Homo sapiens: one gene and its partners. The protein of the gene in region 2 purifies or fractionates together with the protein of the main gene of each other region. This does not show direct contact. Each region holds a gene or a part of one and is shown on either strand. Other genes may lie near its edges.

Region 1 (3,649 bases), on a different chromosome or scaffold from region 2:
GATTTAAGAAGAATACTTATTTATTCTCTATTTTTCTGCTTCTCTGCAGTTTGAGGAAATGAATGCAGAGCTTGAGGAGAACAAAGAGTTGGCTCAGAACCGTCTCTGTGAGCTGGAGAAACTTCGGCAAGACTTTGAGGAGGTCACTACACAAAATGAAAAGCTGAAGGTAGGAACGCATCCCTGAAGGGCAGTAAAATCAGACGTTCTGCTGATCAACTCACGTATATACATAGTTGTGAATCTGCGTATTCATGAGGGATAAGAAAAATGTAGACAAAATCCAACATCCTTTTATGATAAAACTCTTAACAAATTAGGTGTAAAGAAGTGTACCTCAACATAATAAAGGCCATATAAAACAAGCCCACAGCCAACATTATACCCAATGGCGAAAAGTTGAAAGCTTTTCCTTTAAGATCAGGAACAGGATAAAGATGCTCGCTGTCATTACTTTTGTCCTAGCCAGAGTAATTAGGCAAGGATAAGAAATAAAGGCCTCTTAATCAGAAAGGAAGAGGTAAAGTTGTTTCTGTTTATAGATGACATGACTTTATATATAGAAAACCTTACAGGCTCCACGAAAAAACTGTTAGAACTATAAATGAATTCAGTAAAGTTGCAGGCTACAGAATCAACATACAAAAACAATTGTGTGTCTATATACCAACAACAAACTCTATAAAAAAGAAATTAAGAAAACAATCCCATTTACAATACCATTAAAAAAAATTGTGAATAACCTTAACCAGGGAGATGAAAGAACTGTACACTGAATGGATAAAGAAATGTGGTGTGTGTTTGTATGTGAGTGTGTGTGTGTATATGTGCAACAGCATGGATATATTTAGAGGACATTATGCTAACTGAAATAAACCAAGCACGGAAAGGCAAATACTGCATGATCTCACTTGTATGTGGGATCTAAAAAAGTCAAAATCTTGGAAGCAGAGTGTAGAATGGTGGTTACCAGGGTTGGGGAAATCGGAAGATGTTGGGGAAAAGGTACAAAGTTTTAGTTATGCAGGATGAATAAGTTCTGGTGATGTGTAGCATGGTGACTATAATTAATGCTGTATTGTGTACTTGAAATATGCTAAGAGTAGATCTTAAATGTTCTTGCCACACACGAAAAGATAACTGTGAGGTGAAGGATTTGTTAATTAGGTGGATTGTGGTAATGATTTCACAGTGTATATGTATAGCAAAATGCCACATTGTATACCTTAAATATGTATAATTTTTATTTGTTGATTATACCTTAATAAAGCTGGGGGGAACAAAGAAAAAATGTTAAGTTTTGTTGATATATCTACTTCTTTACTTACATATTTACTTATTATATGTACTCTGCCTTGCCCTGAAAAGGATTTAAAGCAACATACAAAGATATGTAGACTAAATCAAGGTGCTGTAATGTAGGAGTTGTTGAGAAAAATGAGAAGTAGGGTAAACTAGGGTGAGGATCCAAAATGCATTAAAGTGGGGCTTGTATACAAGATGTTTGCAGGGGGCATATATATACTGTGGAAGGGAGGCCATTCACATGTCAGTGCTTACCGAAGTGATTCCACAGGTTTGGCTCTGCAGTTTTTTGCTACCAAAACAGAGAAAGAAACACGATTGGTGATCCTGTTGGTCTTCAAACCTGCCCAGAAGAATTTTCTTCTTAGGTTGTTAGTGTAGGGGCCAGCCCCACAGGGTCGGTGGGTCTCTCCCTGTGTGCGGAGACGAGAGAGTGTAGAAATAAAGACACAAGACAAAGAGATAAAAGAAAAGGCAGCTGGGCCTGGGGGACCACTACCACCAAGTTGCGGAGACCGGTAGTGGCCCCAAATGCCAGGCTGCACTGATATTTATTGGATACAAGACAAAGGGGCAGGATAAGGAGAGCAAGCCATCTCCAATCGTAGGTAAGGTCACGTGGGTCACATGTCCACTGGACAGGGGGCCCTTCCCTGCCTGGCAGCCGAGGCATAGAGAGAGAGGAGACAGAGAGAGAAACAGCTTATGCCATTATTTCTGATAATTAGAGACTTTTAATACTTTCACTAATTTGCTACTGCTATCTAGAAGGCAGAGTCAGGTGTACAGGATGGAACATGAAGGCGGCCTAGGAGCGTGACCACTGAACAGGTTAGGCCTCCGGATAACGGCGGACGAGCCTGACTAATGTCAGGCCCTCCACAAGAGGTGGAGGAGTAGAGTCTTCTCTAAACTCCTCCCGGGAAAGGGAGACTCCCTTTCCTGGTCTGCTAAGTAGCAGGTGTTTTCCCTTGACACTTACGCTACCGCTAGACCACGGTCCACCTGGTAACGGGCGTCTTCCCAGAAGCTGGCATTACCGCTAGACCAAGGAGCCCTCTGGTGGCCCTGTCTGGGCATAACAGAAGGCTCGCACTCTTGTCTTCTGGTCACTTCTCACTGTGTCCCCTCAGCTCCTATCTCTGTATGGCCTGGTTTTTCCTAGGTTATGATTATAGAGCGAGGATTATTATAATATTGGAATAAAGAGTAATTGCTACAAACTGATGATTAATGATATTCATATATAATCATATCTAAGATCTATATCTGGCATAACTATTCTTGTTTTATATTTTATTATACTGGAACAGCTCGTGTCCTCGGTCTCTTGCCTCGGCACCTGGGTGGCTTGCCGCCCACATCTTAGGAGAAGAAAAGAGATTCTGGAAGTCTTTCTCACTCCTCTTTCGATCATAGTCATCTCTATTTTACAAGTTGTTTGTAGGTTAAATGATATGAATAAAGATGTTTGAACTGAAAAATAAAAAACAAAAACAACCTAAGTTAAATCAGTTAAAAGTGTTTGAGTAATTAAATCAGATAGTTGCTTAGGAGAGGCATAACTATTTTTGATACCCTGTCAATTTTTTTCTCTGTCACTGTTATTAAAGAGAACAAGTTAGTGACTGGGGTCCTCAACTATGTTTTTAAAATAAGCATCCTGACAAATTTCACTCTTCTGGTGGCTCATTTGACACAGAATATAAAACACATATCAAAACAATTCTAGGAGGAAAGAATACAGTATATCCAGGTACCATCTCCTAGTTAGTCTAATTTAATTTTGGGGTAGATTTTACATAACTACAGCAATGGGTAGATAACTTAATAATCTTTATAAAATTGTCTCTCTTGTGTAGGACATCAGTGAGTTCAAAATTTTACTTCCTGTCTAGCGTCTGGGGCAATGCTAGATTCTGCTTCTGACTTTGCTTTGGGCCCTCCTAAGGTGGAATTGCGGAGTGCAGTGGAGCAAGTCGTTAAGGAAACTCCAGAATATCGCTGCATGCAGTCACAGTTCTCCGTCTTGTATAATGAGAGCCTACAGTTGAAAGCACACTTGGATGAGGCTCGGACCCTGCTTCATGGCACCAGAGGAACCCACCAGCACCAGGTTGAGCTTATTGAGGTAATAGCCTTGCCTTGTCTTTTGTATGTAAGCTTTCTTGCCTCCTAAATTTTACAATTTTACTCCCTCATGTGCAATTAATCTCTCATTCATTCAGCTGTCATTCATAGAGTGGCAGTAGGTCTTTACTCTGGTAGGTACTGGGCATATAAAGATGAGATGACAAAATTCCTGCCCTCACAGATCTTGTAGTCTGCAGTAATGGGAGAATAG
Region 2 (3,649 bases):
CCGGTCCTCCTTCTGAAAAATTGACCTGCATAGAAGGTTGAGAAATAAATAAAGGACACTGGAATAGTATTCATAAAAAGATTATAAACTCATCATATTGTATATGTAGAAATGTTTGTGTAGATAGATATGTAAAGATATTCACATAGATAACTGAATTTTAACAGGCTTAGAGAAAGCCTAGAGGAGAAAAACTTGGGAAGAAATCCTCTCACTTTCCCATCTTCCAAAAGATCTCTGTTTTAACTGAAACTGAATTCCCAACATTATGTTGCATTAAATTATTTAAGAACAAATGTGTTTCCCACTGTAAAATGGCATCACAACTCTACTATGCATGCTCGAAATAAAATTATCCTGCTGGCTACATGTTGCCCTGGGAGTAGGTGAGCTCTCAGTCTCTAGGCATCAAAGACTCTCTTCTTCAGTTGGAAAATCCGTAACAGGCTCAGATCCTTTGACAGGAGATTGAGAGGAGGCTCCACAGAACAAAGATTAACTCCTCAGCAGGCTCACAGCTTGGGCATTCTTCCTTGTTGGTCCTGCTGCCTCTTGGCCTTTCTCTCTCTCTCTCTTTAAATCAGGCTCTTCCTTCCAAAATGAGACCCATATATTATGACATCATCCCATTCTGACTCCTTCTTTTAACCCTAATATCTGACTCCTTCTTAAATATCTGACTCCTTCTTTTAACCCTAAACGCATTGTACTGCTGTTGTAAACCTTCTCTAACTATGCCCACTCCTGCCTCAGCTTCCCTTCCACTGCTCTCATCTGACACTAAAGTTTCAGAAAGTGCAAACATTTGGCTGCCCTGAAGCCTCCCCTTACCTTCCTCCTGTGATTCAGGATTCGCTCAAATAACTCAACAGATTAATGAGCTTAGAATAATTTTTTTTTCCTAGTTCTAGAGCCTACATTTCTTTCTACAGTAAATTTTTCCAATATGAGATTAAGGGACTTCTAGCCTCTGCACCCACTTAGCATTTGCAAACACAAGCCTGGGGCCAAGCCCTTTTAACCACTTGCCTCTGGCCAATTACCTAACTGTTGACATTGAGAAAGCAAATGCCCTCCAGGTAAATATGAGGGTAAAAAGCTAACCTCAACTAAAGCTTCATTTCCAAAAAAGGGAACAAGGTTTCAGGATAGATCTTTACATTTTATAAAACAAGATTCTATAAGGCTGATTACTCTTTAAGAAAAAAAAATCATCTATATAAATATAGCATATTACAAAGGACATATATTTATTGTTCTTATTTATCTTGACCCCTTAAGCCTTTTGTAGGCAAAAAGTGAATTAATTTTCTCCTCTCTGGATGTGGAAAACATGTTAAGGTTTTCACAGATTAAACACTTTACTTCTGATTGGTAGAGCTCATGTCCCTTTTGCTATACATGGTACACACTGTGTGTCTCTATGACATTTGAACTCATACACTTGAAAACATTTAAACGGTCCTACATTTTAGATTAAGACATTCCCAGCAAGGGATACTGTAACAAAAAGTATTCATCTATTTGAATAATCTTTATTAATATATTTGAAAATTGTACCCAGACACATGCCTGCTGTTTATTGATAACAACACTGATTGTGTATTATAGCATTGATTATATACTACAATCGCCTTGATTTGGGTCCTATATATCCCATTCTCTAGATGCTCAGGAAGGATAAACTTACTAATTGCTGATTGAAATGCCAAGACGATTTCCTGAAGTCCTTGACAACTCTAAAATTCTAAGATGTATGATTCTCCAACACTGTACATCTTCTGGCACATGCTACCTAGAGTTAGGTACCTTGAAATTAATCCTTCAAAGAAGGCCTGATTGATAGAAAATTCAACCTATATGGTCAAATTATGCAGTCTCATTAAAAAAAAAAAGATGCCAAGAGGTTCGTTTTCCCTGCATTTGTCTCCCTTCTCTTCATTACCCACCTCCTTGGTTTCTCCCCAACCCTGAGCCCAAGAAGGCACCCTCCCCACTGAATCTTTCAATGTGTGACAGTTAAACCAGAGTCTCCTGTTGGGAATTCAGCCTCTTCCATCTGGGAGCTGACACTTACCAGTTGCTGAAAAGCAGGCTGATCTATGTCACTCTGCAAGGCGAAGTCGCTCAGTACTTTCCAAGGTGGCTGGTAACTTTGTACTTCCACTGGGTTAGCCTGTAAGCCACCGTCGTGTCTCTCTGGACTGGCAGCCACCATGGGAGTTCCTGTCATCCCCTGGATATTCTGTGAATAGGCCCCCCAACCAATCCCAACATGTTAATGAGCAAATTCCCTCCCTCCGTTGTCTGCACAGGCTAAGCAAATATACCCTGGTATTATCTTATCTATATAGTGGTCTTTATTGACTCAGTTAATCCGCCGTACCTACGGATATTAGTTAGAATTCAATTTGTTTTATTGTTTTGTTTTTCTGCCTCTGTGGGCTGGACTATTAGGTCTGCATGGACCTTATTAAACCAAATTCTACTTTGATTTTCTTCTTCCCCCTTACCTTCACAGCTCAGCCCAATTCCTCCCCTCTGCCTTCTCAGACCATAGCTTCCCAGAACTAAAAAGCTGAGGTAAGCAGGGCTTCCCTTCAGCCTCTAGACAGGGTGGTTTTCTGAGCAGTTTCAGTTAGCTGCAGATTTTTTCCAAGCCGTTCTCCTCAAGGAAGAGCCAGCCCCCCACTCCATCCCCCCAAAGCATTTGGGTCTGGTTCCTATTGTGCTATTATGCACTAACCAACTCAGAAAGTGCCCTGGCCCAATCTTGGCCAGCCTGCCAAGTTTAATGACAGCAGATTTTATGGCATTTAAAAATAGGTCCAAAGCAGTAAAAAAAAAAAAAAAAAAAAAAAAAAAAAAAAAAAAAAGAAAAAGAAAGAAAAGAAAAAAAGGAAGAAAAGAAACTCTAGCTTAACTTCACCAGGAGGCCTGCAGAGTGGGTGCTTCCGTGGGACCAAGATAACAGTGGATACTGGTGCGAGGGGCCTGATGCCTCTGTGGAGGCCTGGGCTTCACCTGGAGCAGAGGGTGATCTGGGCATGCGGGTCACCTTGGGGGAACTCGCCAGCCTGAAGGCGCAGCGGCCGACCTTACTTAGAAGTGCGGTGCGCCCTGGGGGCTCACAGGGTGACCTGCCCACGGAACCCCTGGATGTAGGCAGGAATCCAAGGTATTATCCCTCCCTCTTCTTGTGTACGTGAGGAACTGACGATCTGAATGTTGGCAAAACCCGGGCCAAACCTCGTTGCCGCCTGCCCTCAGAGGGGAGGACGGCGTTTCTCCGGTTCACAGGTACAGGCGAGGTGGAAGGGCATGAGCCCACCCACGAGGTTGGGACCTGGATGCTGCTCCCCCGGCGCACGGAGCCTCCCAGCTTCCCCGCCCTCAGCTGGCGGCCGGCGCCGGGTAGCCTGTCCCCCGGGGCATGGGTAGGGGGGTAAGGATGAGGGGCAGCCCCGGCCAAACTCCTGCCCAGGAGCAGGATTGAAAACCGTGCGATCCTGCGTACCAGGAACGCACCTCGCACGCTGCGTCTCCTTCCCCCTCGCATTCCCTGCCCGGCCCCAGAGCCACTCACAGTTTTGTCATTGGGCTGCTGCTGCTGGAGTTGCTTCATCATGATGCTTCGCTTCTTGTCCTT
Region 3 (4,168 bases), on a different chromosome or scaffold from region 2:
GAAAAAGAGAGAGAGTGAAGGATGGTGAGAGAGGGAAGGAGAATTTTCTGCTCTTTGGAATTGCTGGGCTCCCTGTGAATAGGAATGGCACCAGTGGAATGGAGGTTGGCTGGGGCAAGGGGAACTCAGCCACACAGAGAAAGAGAACAGTTAGCTTATGTCTAGTTACACACTTTGAGTCAATAACTTATGCAACTCTATGCACTCCGTCATAATACTTGCATGCTATTCAACAAGTATCATCAATATTATGATTACTGGTTTGTGTGACCATGTGGTTAATGTTGATCATACCAACAAGACTGTAAGTTCCCTGAGGGCAGGGGTATATCTGCCTTTCTCTTCCTATATCCTCAGTGCCCAGTATTTGCCTGCTGCAGAGTAAAGAGCCCCAAAATATAAGTTGAATGAACAAATGAATACATGAATGAATTTATGCAAATTCATGTTGTGGACCCATGTTTGCATATTTGTACCATTTGATGACATGAGCAGGGCAGAGTGTGCTGCTGTAATCCAGCACAGCAAGCAGAACTACAAAAGGTGCCTCTCTTTGGTTGGCCAAGTGCTGGAGTTTGTAAAATCAAATGTGGGTGTGAGGTAAGGGTACCCGGCATGAAGACCCTTGGGGTACTCTGAACCCCAGGGTGTGGTCTAGATGTTACCACAGCTTTGTTGCACCCGCCTCAGATCAGTGCTTATCTCTCTTGGACCTTAACATCCTCATCTATAACATGATGGAATAACACTTCTTTTTCCTTGCAGTTCTTAAATTCTAACATTTTAGGAAGATATCTGGACCCTGAAATCTTGTCAGGAACAACCATGGTAAGATCTCTGACTATAAAGTAGAAAACAACTAAGTTTTCAGATATATATATGCATAAAATACAGCTTTATTTTAATAAAACCTTAAATGTAGGGGGACCTTCTTGCCAGATCCAGGCCAACTAATGGCTTTCCTTCAGCTTTTCCCATACTCAGAAGTCAGGTTTCCAGGCCTCTGTGAAAAGCACATAAATATTCTCAGCCAGGGCTGGCCCTTTGCTTCAATCTCCAGCTATCACAGGGAGTCAGTCTGATAAACATTTGCAGTTAGAATGGAAGGAGGCACAGCCTCCTAGACTTTTACAGATTTTTTTGGACAAGTAGCAGAGTCACAGAAAACCTAGAATTAGGTAAGAAAGCAGAACTCCTCCAGAGAATTCAGAGAGAGCTACAACTGAGAGCCTTTAAACAATCAATGTGTAGGAACAGAAGAAAGGAAATCCACAATTCAAGAAAATAAGCAGACATTTTTTTTCCTCAAAAAAAATTGTTAAGATGAATGTTAGGCACTGATTTTAGCCCTCTGTTCCATCCCTCAAGATGTCACTTGAAAAAGCAAAAGGTTTTATCCACAAAACCACCGGCGAGTAAACAGCCTTCACATTCTTAGCCTCGTACACACACAGTAAGATATTTACTCTCTGATAAACAGCAATTGTAAATAAATCTCATTTAATCTCTAAAAGCCACAATAAAAATCTTTAACCTCCAAGGTAGAGTTTACAGATGCGTCTGCATGCCCTGCCAGCCCCAGAAAACACAAGGTCTTGAATAAACTACTATACCAGGAGGCACATTTTCTCGCTCAAGCATCTTACATTGACCTTCTTTAAAACAAAAATACGTACAAGGAGGAGGAAAGGGGAAAACCCAACCCCTCCCACCCCATTCTCTGTACAAATCGGCCAATAAATCTAACGAAAAGACACAAGAGAAAAAGGACAGAAGCCAACAGGTGGAACAAGGCTTTTTGTTTCCTTAGAAATGCTCAGACACTTGATCTGTGCTCCTCAGTCTATTTGTCTCAGGGTGTCTTTAATGATGTTTTTATTACCCTGATGATGATGATCAAGAATAATGATAACACTTCTACTCTGTGATTCCACAGCATCTCTAGCTGACGATTTCTCCACGCGTTTCAGACACAGTGATCTGTTCTGTTTCGCTCAATCCCAGGGAGGCATACAGCATCCCTGATCAGCAACCTTGATTTTACAGATGGGGAAATTGAGGCACGGGGCACCCCACAACTCAACAGTCTCTACGACCAGAGGAATCCCTGAGACTGGAAAAGTTTCTGGATCGTCTTGTGGCAGAGTTCTCTTGCTCTCCCTTCTTGCCTGCCATGCCGCTCCTCCTCGGAGAGTCTGGGCTGGGGTGGTAAGGATCGGGGTGCCTCCCCTTCACAGCGAGGCACGCCAGGGCAGTGTGTGGGAAGTCCACACGCACACACAGACCCACGGGCACACTGGCACACACAAAGCTCGATGCAATCTCTGCAGTCACTCGGCGGAGCCCTGGCCGGCCCTTGCTCAGCCTGAGAATGCACAGCTCGGAGCCTGCAAGGCCTCCCTGGGCTCTGGGCTGGGGTTTCCCTGAACCAAGGCTCTGCCCTTCTCTCCCTCTTTTCCAGGCTTCCCTCTCTCGCGCTCCCTCTCTCTCTCTCTTTTCCCTCCCACCCTCACACCCTCCTCCCAGCCCTCTCCATCCACCCCTTCTCCCCCACCAACCCAGAGGCACAGATCGTGTTACTGGGGTTCCCTCGAAAGAGGGGCCATCCCCAGTCCTGGATGCCTTGAAAGACTTCCAGGGGCAACGCAGGAGCTCCAATCGCAGGACCCCAGCGCTCCTCCAGAGCAGCGCAGGAATGAGACCCCCACTTCCAGGCACAGGCGAACAAGCCTGCCACCGAAGAAGGAATTGTTAGGGCTCTTACCTTTTTTATGAGGAGAAATTCTGGAGAATCATTTCAGAAACTGAGGGGGGAAAGTGAATGAAGACAAAAAAGACCCTTTTCCCGCAATCCCTGGCCTCCTGGTATCAAGACACCAGGACAACATCAAAGCAACTTAGGGGGAACACTTTAGGGGCCTATTGTCTGCTCTGGTCTGATCTGTTTTTCTTCTGACTCCCCCTCTTGCTGCGGTGACACTTGGTACGGCCCAGGCATTCATGCCAAGTAGCTTTCACACATGGAAGCTTGTCTCAAGCAATTGCTGACAAGCCACAAACAAGACATTCTCCCTCCCTTCTCTGCGCCCCCCCACTCCTCCCCCCTCCACCTTTTCCTCCTCCCCTCTTGTCTCCCCTCCTCCTTTCTTCTGAATGCAAACTAAAACTCTCCAGTGACAGGCAGGCTCGCAGGCTTGGCCTAGCTGCGCACGCAGGCACACACACACACACACACACACACACACACACACACACACACACTCTCTCTCTCTCTCTCTCTCTCTCTCTCTCTCTCTCTCTCTCTCTCTCTCTCTCTCTCCTCTCTCTCTCTCTCTCTCTTCTCTCTCTCTCTCTTCTCTCTCTCTCTCAAGCAGCTCAGCTAGTTGCTGCTGCACTGGTGGAGTTAAGAGACAGGAAAAAGCCCAGGCTGAGTTGGGGGCAGGGAGAAAAAGAGAGGGAGAGCGAGAGCAGAGAGCCGCCTCCTGTGTCCTAGTAAAATGGCAGAAGAGAGGTGAGTCCTTTGGAAGAAAAGCAGTGGCCACACACGTGTGCACACATACACAGACTCAGGCCATCTCAGCGCCAGGAAAAGTGAAATAAATGACCCGACAAAGGAAAAAGCAAAGTCCCATTAGCTGGAGATTGGGGGAGTAGGGAGATAAGAGGGTGAGTGGCCCCAGGACTGGGGTTTCTGTTGAGTGGTTAGGTGATTTTTCTTCTTTACAATAGAGAAAAATTTGTTTCCTAAGGATCTAGCCTTCTTTCACTGCATAATTGAGCATGGACTTGAGCTACTAGTTAAAATAAAATCATGAAATGTGTAAATGTGTGAGTAAACTTAACTGTAGGTTCAACTTGTACCCAAGATATTTTTAAAGTGAAGCTTTTTTTATTTTTTTTTATTTTTTATTTTAGCAGAAACCCTAGAGAGCAGTAGCAAGGAGAGTAGTAACAAGTAGTGTAAACTAGGAGAGCTGTGAAGTGTGATGCTAAAGTTACTGATTGCCAGGCTGCTGGAATTTATGGAGGGTGGGCCTGAGAGTTGGAGGAGGGGAGGGTGAGTGTGCTGTTTTCTAGGAATAAGAGGGGAATGAGGTAGGATAATGAATATGGCAAGAAACAAGCAGGAATTTGATTGGTGTGGAGGGAGGAGGTGGGGGCTGTAAAG

Evidence for each region.
Region 1: the proteins of ISL1 (region 2) and RNF20 purify together in Homo sapiens (affinity purification with western blotting, with the first as the bait; one study listed by BioGRID). This does not show direct contact.
Region 3: the proteins of ISL1 (region 2) and BCL9 purify together in Homo sapiens (affinity purification with mass spectrometry, with the first as the bait; one large-scale study listed by BioGRID). This does not show direct contact.

The regions. Positions count from the first base shown.
Region 1 is NC_000009.12:101,547,350-101,550,998, forward strand, and holds part of RNF20 (E3 ubiquitin-protein ligase BRE1A), read left to right. Parts: intron 1-49; coding exon 50-169; intron 170-3,256; coding exon 3,257-3,436; intron 3,437-3,649. UniProt on the Homo sapiens protein: Component of the RNF20/40 E3 ubiquitin-protein ligase complex that mediates monoubiquitination of 'Lys-120' of histone H2B (H2BK120ub1).
Region 2 is NC_000005.10:51,389,870-51,393,518, reverse strand, and holds part of ISL1 (insulin gene enhancer protein ISL-1), read right to left. Parts: coding exon 3,587-3,649; intron 2,246-3,586; coding exon 2,078-2,245; intron 26-2,077; coding exon 1-25. UniProt on the Homo sapiens protein: DNA-binding transcriptional activator. Recognizes and binds to the consensus octamer binding site 5'-ATAATTAA-3' in promoter of target genes. Plays a fundamental role in the gene regulatory network essential for retinal ganglion cell (RGC) differentiation.
Region 3 is NC_000001.11:147,540,271-147,544,438, reverse strand, and holds the start of BCL9 (B-cell CLL/lymphoma 9 protein), read right to left. Parts: upstream 2,939-4,168; 5' UTR 2,765-2,938; intron 1-2,764. UniProt on the Homo sapiens protein: Involved in signal transduction through the Wnt pathway. Promotes beta-catenin's transcriptional activity.